4 linked regions of the Homo sapiens genome follow. The protein of the gene in region 2 purifies or fractionates together with the protein of the main gene of each other region. This does not show direct contact. Each region holds a gene or a part of one and is shown on either strand. Other genes may lie near its edges.

What was found.
Region 1: the proteins of PEG10 (region 2) and USP9X purify together in Homo sapiens (affinity purification with mass spectrometry; 3 studies listed by BioGRID and IntAct, with this or other methods). This does not show direct contact.
Region 3: the proteins of PEG10 (region 2) and CEP290 purify together in Homo sapiens (affinity purification with mass spectrometry; 3 studies listed by BioGRID and IntAct, with this or other methods). This does not show direct contact.
Region 4: the proteins of PEG10 (region 2) and TGFBR1 purify together in Homo sapiens (affinity purification with western blotting; one study listed by BioGRID). This does not show direct contact.

Annotation. Positions count from the first base shown.
Region 1 is NC_000023.11:41,214,445-41,217,944, reverse strand, and holds part of USP9X (ubiquitin carboxyl-terminal hydrolase 9X), read right to left. Parts: intron 3,378-3,500; coding exon 3,236-3,377; intron 2,047-3,235; coding exon 1,293-2,046; intron 726-1,292; coding exon 602-725; intron 1-601.
Region 2 is NC_000007.14:94,666,370-94,670,195, reverse strand, and holds the end of PEG10 (retrotransposon-derived protein PEG10), read right to left. Parts: 3' UTR 501-3,826; downstream 1-500.
Region 3 is NC_000012.12:88,132,089-88,135,588, forward strand, and holds part of CEP290 (centrosomal protein of 290 kDa), read right to left. Parts: intron 1-3,500. UniProt on the Homo sapiens protein: Involved in early and late steps in cilia formation. Its association with CCP110 is required for inhibition of primary cilia formation by CCP110.
Region 4 is NC_000009.12:99,146,613-99,150,112, reverse strand, and holds part of TGFBR1 (TGF-beta receptor type-1 isoform 1 precursor), read right to left. Parts: intron 2,460-3,500; coding exon 2,329-2,459; intron 934-2,328; coding exon 808-933; 3' UTR 1-807. UniProt on the Homo sapiens protein: Transmembrane serine/threonine kinase forming with the TGF-beta type II serine/threonine kinase receptor, TGFBR2, the non-promiscuous receptor for the TGF-beta cytokines TGFB1, TGFB2 and TGFB3.

The sequences.
Region 1 (3,500 bases), on a different chromosome or scaffold from region 2:
ATTTCATAAGTAGCTTACACTTTTCAGTCTCATCTTGTAATCTTTGGTTTTGTTTGAGACAGGGTCTTGCTCTGCTGCCCAGGCTGGAGTGCAGTGGCACAGTCATGGCTCACTGCAGCTTCAACCTCCCAGGCTCCAGCGATCCTCCCACCTCAGCCTTCCGAGTAGCTGGGATTACAGGTGTGCGCCACCATACTTGGGTAATTTTTAAAATCTTCTTTGAAGAGATGGGGGTCTCACTATGTTGCCTAGGCTGGTCCTGAACTCCCGAGCTCAAGCAATCCTCCCACCCTGGCTTCCCAAAGTGCTGGCATTACAGGTGTGAGTCACTGTCCCCCAGTCTCAGCTTGTAGTCTTTGGTGCAGGGATGTCAAAGATATGATACAAGGTAATAGAAGCAGAAGTCAGCTTCTGAATAACAAAAGGCCATGTTTAGACTAAGTAACTATTTTAATATGATTTCTCTATTGTGACCCAGAGTTTTTATTCTATATTCCAAACTTCAAACAAAATTCTCTTGGTTTAGAAAAACATAAAGCAATCTATTAAAGAAGCAAACCAAACATTAGTATAATAGGAATGAAAATCCAAAGCAATGTACCAATCACTGGCAGAGCCACGGACTACTTTCTTTGTGTGAAATCCTGTAGTAAAGAGGAACCTAGCAGCAAGTTGAATACTGATCATAGTGATTTCTTCTGCTTCAGGCAACAGGTGATCTTGCCCTATAAATAAAATGCAGATATAAAAACACATTTTTATTTTCCAACCCCATTTTCAAACAAGTCTGTGTTTCCATTAATTTTGAGAAGTCCTAAATTTGTTAAGAACCCTTCTCAGGCTACTTTAATTTAGACCCATTTATTTTTTTATTTTATTTTTTTGAGATGGAGACTCACTGTCACCCAGGCTGGAGTGCAGTGGCCATCAATTTGGGTCACTGCAACCTCCACCTCCCAGGTTCAAGCGATTCTCCTGCCTCAGCCTCCGGAGTAGCTGGGACTACAGGGAGTAGCTGGGACTACAGGTGCATGCCACCATGCCTGGCTAATTTTTATATTTTTAGTAGAGATGGGGTTTCACCATGTTGGTCAGGCTGGTATTGAACTCTTGACCTCAGGTGATCCACCTACCTCGGCCTCCCAAAGTGCTGGGATTACAGGCGTGAACCACCACACCCAGCAAATTAGACTCATTTAAAGTGAAAACATTAATTTTATGAACTTAAACATGTTGACGCCTACTATAAATTATTCTTTATTACTAAGAAGCTAAACTCTCTTGATACTCACCGGGAGGAGGGTTTAAGTAAACGCCATTACATGTAAGCAGTTTTTTCATAAACTGAAAATACTCCATACTGTACTGCATTCGGTTATGCATGAATTGTACGTTCTGTTTCCGTACACTTCTCTCAATGGCTGATGGCATAATAATCTGATGAGGTCTGGTGGTGATAGCAAGCTCTGATATATATCTTATCAACTCATCATCTTGGTCTATTGTGTCCATTCGTTCATAAAAAAGTATATAAGCATTCCACCACCTTTTCTGGCGCCTGTATGACATACGCTTCATCATGTGATCAAACACTTCTCCCATGTACTCTCCACCAAAACACTGGTTTTTCATTTCTTCGTCATCATCCATTTTACATTCTGTTACATCACCATCATCAAATTTATACCAGCGATTTCTCTCACCATCTCCACCATTCCTTTGGATGATGTAAGAATAATAATGCCCCCCACTCGCTTGACCACTGTGTACGAGCACACCCACAAGTCTGTATTTTGTGCTTCCTGCTGTCTCACTTTCAGACTGCTCACTCTGTTGTATCAACTGACTCTCTGGGTTTACATTATCCCCTTCCAGCTTTGCGACACCTGCAACTGTGTAAGGTTCCATGTCCAGCTCTCGAGGAAATTCAAAATAATCATTGAACTTGATTGCACATTCTCTTTCCCAGTCATAGTCAAATCGCTTTAGTTGTATAGCAAGAACAGGAGGTAATTTTTTAATCAGCAAGCGCTTTACGGTATCAACCTAAAATAAACAAGACAAAGTTACCAGATGTTCTATTAAAATCCACAGGAAAAAAAAAAAAACCCCAAGCAAACTTTTAAATGATATTAAGACTTATCTGAATTTTTAAGTATAAACAAATACATGACAATGAGCATAATCAAGATAATCCTATCAGCTGATTTAAATGCTGAAATTAATAATATGCAAATGGTAAATTGTTGACTGGTTTCTGTCATTGTTATCTAGCCATTATTACCTGTTTGATGTTTACTGTTGTTCCCACGAAGGTGGTTTCCTATGCACAAACCAAAGAACTACAATAACAATAAGAGTAGCTAATATTTGTTGGGTAATTCAGATGCCAGGTAATATATACTAAGTGCCGCACAAGTAAAAACATACCGAATCCTTACAACCTTCTCAAGTGTGTACTACTGAACCTTAAAAGATGAAAACTAGTAATCACAGAGAGGTCAAGTAACTTGCCTCAGGTCTCAGGAGCTGCAGGTGGCAGGCAGTATGGCTTTACAGCCCACAATCTCAATCTTTAAACTTCAGGACTTCTCTAAGTGGTGCATAAGGCCAAAACAACACAAGTGACTTGAGGGTGAAAGGGTTTGGGAGCTCCCAAAGATACACCTTATTCATTACTATAATGCGTGTGAATCATCTCTCTCAAAGAACTGCTAATAAGTTTCCAAAATAAATGGTTTTATAACATAGGTGATAAAAGAAATCTTATGGGCCACTTGACTAGTCTAAAAGAAATCTTATGTGGTTCAATAAAGTAATTAATGGTTTCAGCAAATGTTTTGGTCTTGACAAGTAATCCTGGACATGACAGGAGAAATGTTTTCCTCTATCAGCTCTGTATCTTTGAGGGGTTCAATGGCAATTTGTTTCTCGGTAGAGATGGAAAGTGTCTGTGTAACTTATATAAGAGAATGTGCTATCACGTTATGACTTTTAAAATTATTCACTCTTATTTACCTATTTTTATCTTATTTACCTAGCCCCTTTGGCACTACTTTTTTTCCTTCCTTGCCAAACCTTCTATTAGTTATCATATTGACTACTTCTCTGCTACCACTATACCAAAGTAGGAGAAAATAAAAATAGGGTGACTTGTGAGGATGAACCAAAAAAACCAATTTCTTCTAAATCCATTAAATGTAATCAAAATTAAACAAAACTGGACAGCCCGTACCTTTTTATTGCATTTTTCACAATGATATGCATTTGCACCTTCTAGTAAATCTCCTTTGACATACTGTTCCAAAGAATCAAGAAGATTTTGGTGATTTCTAATGTCTACGTTTAGGGTCGTAAAAGATTCTTCACATTCGTACCTAAAAACGATTTAAAAAAAGGATTTATCCCTTAGTTTTGTAAACATTTTAGTTATGGACTTAATGTAAACTACATTTGCCTTTTTTTTTTAAATTATACTTTAAGTTCTAGGGTACATGTCC
Region 2 (3,826 bases):
TTTCCTTTTAGTCACTATCTTCCCAATAAACAGTCATATTTATGTGACTGTCATGTCATATGAACCTAGCAGCCCTTTGAAACTCTTCTTCTATGTCCTAATACTTCATAATTTTATATTAATGAATCTCAAGTATTTAAAGTAAAACTGATGTTAAAGTTTGTGATAATAGCAACCAGAGTTGCTATTAATTGTGTATCTTTATTTTATATGTTAAACTTTTGCAGCTGGAATAACTGATTTCCTGGAGTATTCTGGCTATATAATTCATACTAGGTTGTAATCAATAATGTTCTTTATACCACCACCCCACTATCCCAAACTCAATTCCACCCCTACCCTACCCACCCTCCTACCTCCCTACCCTTCCAACAATCCCACCCTCCCCACAGCCCCACCCTACTCTAGCCTCTCCCACTCTCCCTACTCTCTCAGCCTTCCCCACCCTACCCCACCCCATTCCCTTGATGCTGGTAGATGCTGAAATGATCAGGACACAGTTTGCACTTAACCACTAAATCTTTATTGAATTTTTATTGTAACAGCAATGCAATATTAGCAAATAGAGAGAAATATAGAGTGAAGAGAATACAGCAATAAAGTTAGAAGGAGGGGTAGGGGCAATGGGGTTCAGTGGTAGGAGGAGGGCTACTGACAGGGGTAAAAGCAAGGGTTTTTATTTATCACTTTTATAACTTCCATGAAAATTTACCATCCATCATTGACAAGTTCATTCTAGCAGTAATTTATCAGAGGTCACTCATCCTCTATTAAATTATTAATCTAATCACCTTTGAACTTTCTCCCACTGGGGTTTTTATCCATGTCCAATTCGCTCTAAATAAGTTGGTCTCCCTGCAGTTCCCTCCGAGTTTATTTGAAATCTTTAAGGATAGCAATTATAGGGTAAAGGGTTACAAGTAAGTACGCATGTCCACTTATAGCGATATCTAATACATAATATTATTCTAACATTCTAAATAACCCCACCCACTTAAAATTACTTAATAGTCCCTCCCACCCTAAAATGCTTATGATTATATATCCCCTATTACTTAAACTTGATTACACAAAGAAATAAAAGCAATGCAATTTTCCACAGACCAATTCAATACCATTCTACAATCTAAAACAACAAAGAACTTTCAGTCTCATCAGATGTGCATTCTCTCTTTAGATGAAAATGTAGCATGGTTCCCGCAGGGCTCTCCATTTCTGCCCAGGTCTTTCCAGCAGGTTGTTCTCTGTTGTCAATCTTGGAACTGTCTGTATCTGATGTGAGATGTCTGTGGTGGATGACAACTGGATCAATTCAGAAGTCCAAGAGGTACCTACAAACTTAAACAGAATTCCAGACTGCACCATATAGATGTGGCCCTCTTATTTTGTGCACCTGCAAGTTCACTGTATTACTTCACGATTTGATCAGACTAATTCTCCTTTTTTCCACTAAGACAAATACCTCACTGTCCAAACTAAATTGACCCTTCATAAATGTATGTAAACTTTCTGTGTTTCAATATCCTAGCATGATAAATTTAGCTAGTTCTCTCTAGGCTTGCCTATCAATGGGAGCTCTTAGATCTTCTTCCTTCTTGATTTAATTAACAATGTAAATTTGGGCTAAAAGTCAATTAATTAATTTTGCCAGTTTGAAAAACTCGACTACTGATTTGCTTACTAATTCATCTATCTCCTTTATGTTTTTTATTTTGCTCCCTTTCTAACTTCTTTAGATATCAAATTCCATTGATTTTTTTCCTTTCTTATGAATAAAGCCATTTTTGTTGGAAAATGCCAAAAAAAATTTAAAGGATCCAATTAACATAAATTTGATTAACAACAAAATAAATCAATTGAGTGAAAGGAAACTTAACCAAACTTCAAAACTATAGAATAATAAATTTAGAATTACTTATCCTTAACATCTACATTTATAGATAGCATATATAGCAATAGAGCATAGTACACACTGCCAAAAAGTTAATCACAAGCTTTAGTAAACAGCCAAATGTGGATCAGGGACTTTCTGAGTTGTTAACCCACAGCAGCATATTTTCCCTAATCGTTCTTGTCGTTGGTGAACTTCTCCAGACTTTTGCTTGCAGTGGTGGCAAATGTCCGTGTGCACATGCCAGGGCTACAGACAACGGCCCATTTCTAGGCACCCTGCAGCTTGAAGATCAATTGACAACTGTAAATTTGACAAAAAAACAACTTGAATTCAAATGTATGGAGGATGAATTGATACTTGAGGTAAACAGAAGTGACTCTTCAAAATAGTTCAGAAGCACAAATGCACCATTTTAAAAGTAATTACTCTAAAACACATGAGTGATTGACAAGCTTTCTGATTCCATTGAAGGAAAAAAAAAGTTGTTTTGGATTAAATAGCCAATTAGGTTTCTCTTTTCAAATTTTATATCCTTTTATATGATTTTTAAAGGCCCAATTGATAGAATTGAAATTATATATGATGTTAAAATTGAAGATGAACAGGATGAATTATTATACAAATGCTCCAGTTCTGAGGAGCCTCTCATTCACAGCATTGTAAGAAGTTCACAGTAAAGGAATATTTTACACTATGTTACTTATCATTTTTACTTAGTTTAACAATAAGAACTGGATAGTGCTTTGTAATTCAATGGAAGTTTTTGAAAGCCTAGTCACCACTTCAAAACACACTAAAAATTATACTAAAAATTTTAAGTGTTTAAACATGCAAGAATAAGAGCAGATGATAATGAACATGTGAAAGATGATGCTGATGAAAAGTGAAACTTCACCGTTAGACTCCTCTTCATGTCAGGCAATTTGAGATATACACCATGTTGTTTTCTACTGCTCAAACTGTGCTTTGGCAATTAAAGCCTGCCTCTTACATCTCTGTGTGTGGCAGCAAAATGGAGTCTCAGCAACCAGGCAGGAAAATGACACAAATCCTGCAGCAGGGTCAATGGCAGTAGCAAAGAATTAAACAGAAAAAGAGAGGTTAGATAAAACAGTTCAAGGTAGTAGCAAGGGACCAGGCTAAAGGAAGTCAGGCAGTCCCAGGTTAGCACAAAGCTTCCAGGGGACATCAGAGGTGTCACTGGGCTGAAGACAACTCTTGTGTTGTCCGTTGCTTTGAGTCCTTTGAGTTGCTTTCTGAGGCTTTTCATCCATTGGCAGCTTCACATCAGCTCCATCCTCTAGAGGGACCTTTTTCATTACGTGGATTCTGATCCTTTTGAAGTGGTTACCATCAAGTAATGTGGAGCTCACTAAGGAAGTCCACATCCTCAAGACAGTGTCCACAGCCCTAATTCCTCTTCTTCAAAGATGTCCCCCTTCCAGGCATAGGAGTGTGAATCTGGGTGCTAAATCATTTCTCCTCTCTCCACACATCCTAATGCTACAGTCTAATGAGGGGACTGAAGATGAAATGCCCAGATGCATATGGAGGCAGACACATGGATAGATTCTTCCAAAACGTCAGCTGGTGCTTTTCCAGCCAATTAAGAACACTCATGAAAATTCTTTCTGAAGTACCAGGACAAATCTCTTAAGAGTTGGGTATGGGATTTTGGAGTCCTTTTGATGTGCTACTCTTTAGCCCTCAAAGGTGATTGAGAGGTGGTCACATTTCATGAACATCTAACAACGCTGGAGCCACCAGTAATCTCTGGTTACCAGGTTTAATGCTTTGTGGAAGCCATCATGGCATGATGATGGTAAGGTGTTGTGTCAAAGCCGGAGTCATTGGGTACATGTGATTTGCACCATGATGTGAAGACATAGTCTTAACATGCAAGAGTCCATCTGAGAGAGCACTTTCTTTTCA
Region 3 (3,500 bases), on a different chromosome or scaffold from region 2:
GAAAAATGATCAGTGAATAGAATAGCAAAAAGTAATACAGCATTCTCTTATCTACATATAAGTGACTTTATCTGTGATTCTTGTTTCTCTGAACAGGCAAACATTATTATAAACATTATGATGCCTTTTTTCACCTATTCTCCAAACCTCATTCCTCTTATGACCTTTCATTTTTCTGGTTCTCCTCTTTATTAAAGGAGACGATAGAATCACAATGGTATACAACGATATTTAAAAAGTCTATAATAAAGAACCAAATGTAGTATGTGATCCTTGACAGAACTTTGGATATTGGAGGTGGGGAGACTGAAGGATATTATTGGGCCATTAGAAGAAATCTCATTATGGACTAGATAATGGTGTTGAATCAATATTAAAATTCCTGAGCATGACAATTATATTGTGTTCATTGTAGGAGAACATCTTTCTTTTTCAAACAGACAAGCTGAAATATTTAAGTGCAAAGTATCATATCTGCAATTAGCTCTTAAATGACTCAGCAAAAAATGTGATTGAACAAACAAGAGACAGAGAAATACATGTGTGTGTAAAAATACTGACAAAAAGATAAAGCAAAGTTGGCACAACATTAAGAACTGGTGAATCTATATGAAGGGTATGTGGGTGGTTATTGTTTTTCTTTTTCCCATCAACTTTTAAGTTCTGGGGTACATGTGTAAGATGTGCAGGTTTGTTACTTAGGTAAATGTGTACAATGGTGGCTTGCTGCACAGATCAACCCATAACCTAGATATTAAGCCCAGCATCCATTAGCTATTCTTCCTGATGTTCTCCCACCCCGACCCCTTGACGGGTCCCAGTGTGTGTTGTTCCCCACCATGTGTCCATGTGTTCTCATTGTTCAGCTCCCACTTATAAGTGAGAACATGCAGTGTTTGGTTTTCTGTTCCTGTGTGAGTTTGCTGAGGATAATGGCTTCCACCTCCATCCCATGTCCCTGCAAAGGACATGATCTTGTTCCGGTTTTTTTTTTTTTTTTTTTTTGAGACAAACTCTAGTTTTGTTGCTAAGGCTAGAGTCCAGTGGTGCGATCTCAGCTCACTGCAACCTCTGCCTTCTGGGTTCAAGTCATTCTCCTGCCTCAGCCTCCCAAGTAGCTGGGACTGCAGGCATACAGTACCATGACCAGTTAATTTTTGTTTGTTTTGTTTTGTTTTTGTAGAGATGGGGTTTCACCATACTGGCCAGGCTGGTCTTGAACTCCTGACCTCAAGTGATCTGCCTGCCTCGGCCTCCCAAAGTGCTGGGACTGTAGGCATGAGTCACCACGCTTGACCTCTCATTCTCTTTTGATGGCTGCATAGTATTCTATGATGTATATGTTCCACATTTTCATTATCCAGTCTATCATTGATGAGCATTTGGGTTGATTCCATGTCTTTGCTATTGTGAATAGTGCTGCAATGAACATATGTGTGCAAGTATCTTTATAAGAAAATGATTTATATTCTTTTGGGTATATACCCAGTAATGGGATTGCTGGGTCAAGTGGTATTTCTGCTTCTAGATCTTCGAGGAATTGCCACACTGTCTCCCACAATGGTTGAACTAATTTACATTAACACCAACAGTGTGTTTCTTACAATCTTTATGAAGATATGACATTTTTCAAAATAAAAATTTAAAGAAAGTTTATAATAAAATGCAAACTACAATACAAATTTTAGAAGTTTGCCTATCATTATTATTATCAATTGAAAGTTAATAATCCCACTGTGTTCTGAATTGGGAAATTTTTACAAGAAGAGAAGCCAAGAACTTAATGCTAAAGCATTTAATGCTATTAATGTTTTTTTCCCTTGTCTTCTCAAACATCACACTCTGTTTCTCCTTTCTTGAGCTTTTCCTTGAAGCACTCTTCCTATTTCATTGCTTTATTAGACATTTCTCAGAGACGTGCCTTACAATCACTTCTCTGGCTTCAATAATGTCTACATTGATGATTCATAAATCCTCATCATCTGTACAGGGTCTCTTGTGAATTCCATATCCACAGATACCCTTTTTGAATATGCCCAGAAGAACCTCAAACTCAACATCTACAAAACTGAAATAATCTCAAGCTTTCCAAATTCCTCTTGTGTTCCTCCTTAATGAATGGCACTATCTACCTATTTAGTGGCCCAACCCACAAAATTAGGCAGACTCTCCATCCTCCCTCTCCTCCAACAACCAATTACATTCACCACATCCAATTACATCTACTTCTCTCACACTTGTCTTTCTCAGGCAAATGCCATCATTAGCACTTCCCTGAATTAACACAAATGTTTCCTTACTAGTCTTGGCCCTTTTCAATCCACTCTCTACAAAGTACAGTAAACTTTTAAAGTATAGATCTGATCATGATATCCTGTGCTCAAAACTCTTCACTGGCTCCTTTCAGGAAAAGAACCAAATTCATTAGGAACTGGCCCTTGCTTATCTCTCCAGAGGATCATAAAAAATAAAACTGGGAAGGCAAGATAGCACAGACTCTTGAGTAAGACTGTTTTCAAATCCTACCTTTACCATTTATAAGCTGTGCAACCATGGGCAATTACTCTTTCTGTGTCTCCATTTCTTCATCTGTATCATGGCAGAAATGACAACTATCTCATATGACAAGTATCAAATAAGCAATAATGAATTAATGCATATGAAGTGCCTGGCACATAGTAAGGACTCTATGAAAGCTATTTTCACTTATATTTCAGTCAAAATGAATAACTGTAGTTTCCTAAATACTCCATAACATCTCTTACCTCTAGGTCTTAGCAAATGCTATATCTTCTACCCAGAATGTTCTTTTATTAACCACCATATATATCCTCATTCCTCTTACCAGTCTAACTATACTTCAGGTCTCAGTTTACAGATCACATCCTGCACCTCAAGGCTGATTACGGTATCTCTCTCCAGAGTATGCCAGAATATGACCTTATGTATCTCCCTAAGTATCATATTATCACTATGTTATGCTTATTATTGACTATGAATATTCTTGAGAACCAGAACATAGTTGCCCACTATATCACTAGTAACTAGCAGCCTCTGGTATGCTGTAAAGACTCAATAAAACTGAATGACTGGTTAACGGCAAAGAAGTAATTGCCAAAGCAACCCATACCCATATTTCATCTCAAGGAATTGAGCAGCCAAAAAGGAACACAGGCCATATATTCAAGTTTTCTCTGTGTGTGACTATGAAAAAAGACAATAGTCTAAGATATAAATGGACAAGGTAGTTCTGATTAGCTAAGGGTGTGTGGTATGAATGATAAGTCAACTGATACAGGTCTATATAGAAGAACAAAAGTCCAGAAAACCACAGACATCCCCCTAAGCAATTCTACCAGTGTATATTATAAGTTAGATCCTTGATGACTATTAAAAAATCCACATGTCTGCTATGTTTTGCAGTTAGCTAAACAGATAATGCTCTAAGAGCTTCTTCCTAACATTTAAGTGGCATCGATCCATACTTTCTCTACCACATT
Region 4 (3,500 bases), on a different chromosome or scaffold from region 2:
GAATACCAAATGACATACCACAAAAACCCTTCCAAAAACAAAACAGAAAAAGTTTGGGTTACCCAGATAAATAAGCTTTTTGAATTCAAACACTATAGGTTTTAACATAGAGACTTTCAGCAATTCTACTCATTTCCATTAGAAAGACACAGAAGTGGCACTTACTGGTATAGTACAATCCCATTTTGAAGGCATGTAATGTTCTGAATAAGTGAAAGAACAATAATAGTATACAAAATACAATTGCATGAATTATGTTCCTCACTACTATATGAGGTCATTTTTAGACTCAAGATAAGAGTTTTATAAGTGTTAGTTTTAAGATCCTGAAAAACTATAGAACAGTACATTCAAAGTCTGAATCAAGGAAACTCTAGTGGTTCAGAATCCTCTGAGAATGTACTAACCAGGAGTAAATCACTTTCTTTAGTAATAAGACATGTTTCATTGTAATTCAGCAATCCAACTCCTTTGCCCTTAAAGATGATCTCCAGCACAGCAGAGTTACCTAAAGTTAAGACCAGCAATCATCTTTTTAAAAAACAAGTTTTGTTAATAAAAAATAAAGGTAGACTACACATTTTCTGTCCTGGGAAAGAAGCGTTCATAGTGCACAGAAAGGACCCACATGGCTGTTTCCTGGGTCCAAAGAAATCCTGGGAAGTTTTTAATTGACTTTATTACACTGCTGCAAAAGGAAGCAATATCCTTCTGTTCCCTCTCAGTGAGGTAGAACAATTGACCTCCCAAATTAAAACCCAGGAGCAGATCTGAAGAAAAAAGGAGAGTTCAGGCAAAGCTGTAGAATTACATTTTGATGCCTTCCTGTTGACTGAGTTGCGATAATGTTTTCTTAATCCGCAATGCTGTAAGCCTAGCTGCTCCATTGGCATACCAACATTCTCTCATAATTTTAGCCATTACTCTCAAGGCCTACAAGAAAATATAAAAAAAAAAATTAATGCATGCACCATTTTCCATTGGTCTGGATAAGAATTTTTACGTGTAAATTTTCTTTTTAAATGACATATACACTTGTTATTGTTTAAGCATTATTTGTAATAGCAAATGAGTAGAAATTACATAAATTTCCATCAATAGGGTACTGGTGCCAGTGCTGGAAAGCAGGTGGACAAAGAGTGACTCATTTAGCAAACCTGAAAAGGCCGAATCCTAAACCAGAGCTGGGCAAAGCAAAGAAGAAATCTGACCTCACACTGAAATTTTAAGTTTGTACTTTGAAGTATTCACATCAAATTTTTCTTTCTTTTTTTTTTTTTTGAGACAGGGTCTCACTCTGCCGCCCAAAGTGGAATGCAATGGCATGCCCTCAGCTCACTGCAGCCTTGACCTCCCAGGCTCCAGCAATCCTCCCACTTCAGCCTCCCAAGTAGATCAAATTTCTAAAAGACAAAATCTAGCAGCACTCTCATTTATTAAACTATGTCACATGCAAATTCCTTAAGCATGCTGAAATACATTTTATTTATTTGGGCCTGGAGATGTGATTTTGTTGGAGGTAGCAAGCTCTCTTGCTTATCAGAGGTTCTGCTGAGTCCTACAATAGTTTAAGACGTAAAATCAACTACTGAACTGAACAGCTTTTTATAGCCTTTTTAAGCTACAAATCTTCAAACCTGGAGGAATATGCTCTGCTTCACCAATATTGTAATAGTAACAGCTAGCAATTAAGGAGAGGTTAAATAAAATTCATCTTACGAATCTTTAAATTTACAATTACAAAAACGTTTCTAAAACTTTTTGTTAGAGCTGAAGTTGAGCAGCTCAGATACTGCTGGAAAAAAGCATTTTCCCTAAATTCCTGGTTAACGGTTATCTGGGCAATCAGATGAATAAAACGGAAAATCATTTGAAACACCTTTGTAATCACCTTATCTGAGTTCCTCACCTTGCAAAGGGATATTAAAGTCCAGAGAACTAAAGGGATTTGTTCAGAGTCAGACCCTTGAAATGGTAGCCAGGCTGGTCTAGAATACAGGGCTCCTCATTCATGTCCGGTAACTGTCTAGTGTTCTGGGTTGCCCCGGCTGAAGGGAGGCATTCATTTAAAAATATGTGCCTTAGTTCGCCCGGCAGATCTAAACTATGTTCTGATACACTAAAGGCCACTGCAAATGTTCCATGGCCCTTTCAATGTGCTTACAATTGAATATGAAAACCAAATTATTCTGTTTTTAAACATTGGTTTGACTGCTATGAAAAAGAAAATTCTTAAAGAAAAGTTTTCCTTAAAGAAAAGTAGCAAACTTTTGCTTACTAAGCAGAAGCAGTTTAGAAAATTGCCTAATATCAAAAAGAAATACTCACTTCACAGCTCTGCCATCTGTTTGGGATATTTGGCCTTAACTTCTGTTCACAAACAACTTTTCTCATTTCTTCAACTGATGGGTCAGAAGGTACAAGATCATAATAAGGCAGTTGGTAATCTTCATGAATTCCTGTATCAGTTTAAAAAAAATTAAATTTTGATGAATTTATTCAGCTAATGCCAAGGCATTAAAAGATCACCTGAGAGACCTATTACAGTGTTTCATTACTAAAGTAGGTATGTGGAACAGAGATTACAGCTTTCTCTATCTCATCCACATCTGTATCCACAAGCCACTTCCCTGAGTTGATATTCCACCCACACCTTGAAACTAAGTATTGCCATGAGATCAATAAAGCCTATTTGAAATGACAGTAAACTATGAGCTGTGATGACCAGATTGACATTTTCCCCTAGAACCCTATTGTGCAGCAAATGAGATTCTATTCTGTAAGTGCACAGGCTCTCACTTGCACAGGGATATATATACCCTATCAGTGAGACTTGAATCTTATGAGGCAAGTTTAAGGTGCCAAGTCCCTTTCTCTACTTGCATCTGTCAATAATATATCCTATTTACTACAATACAGAGAAATACTCTGTCCCTCACTGCTTCAAAAACCTAAGGCACTAGGTCTCAGCCAAGTCTAGGTCCCCAAGCCTAAGAGACTGTTTCCTGAGTAAACATTAAAAGTACTCCATCTAAAAAGCTAGAAGTTAAAACAAACTAACTCTAGAATACAACACAATGGTAACATAATTGTATTCTGTGTATGTAACTGTAACTATCAAGTTGGAGAAAATAACCACAATCTCAAAGAAAAAAAATAAGTTTGACACCCAGGTACATGCTAGAAACAGCTTCCTAGGTGAGCCTCTCAAGCAGCTGTCCATTCTAAAGAACTATATTCCAATATAACAAGGGGTTGGGTTCTGATGAGTCTCCAGATTCAAATGGAAACAGGAAGAGAATACACTAGGCTAGAGCTGTGCATGTGCACACCATGGCACTGTCCCCTCCCAAAGGTTTCATCGCCTTTGTTTTCTCTGGCACTCGGTGACATCCTGTTTCAGATAATGGACTGTACATAATTTCATTCAATTAAAAAAAGAAGACAATTCTTGAACAACTTCTGCTCATGACAAACTACTGGGGGAGAGGAGAGCAATT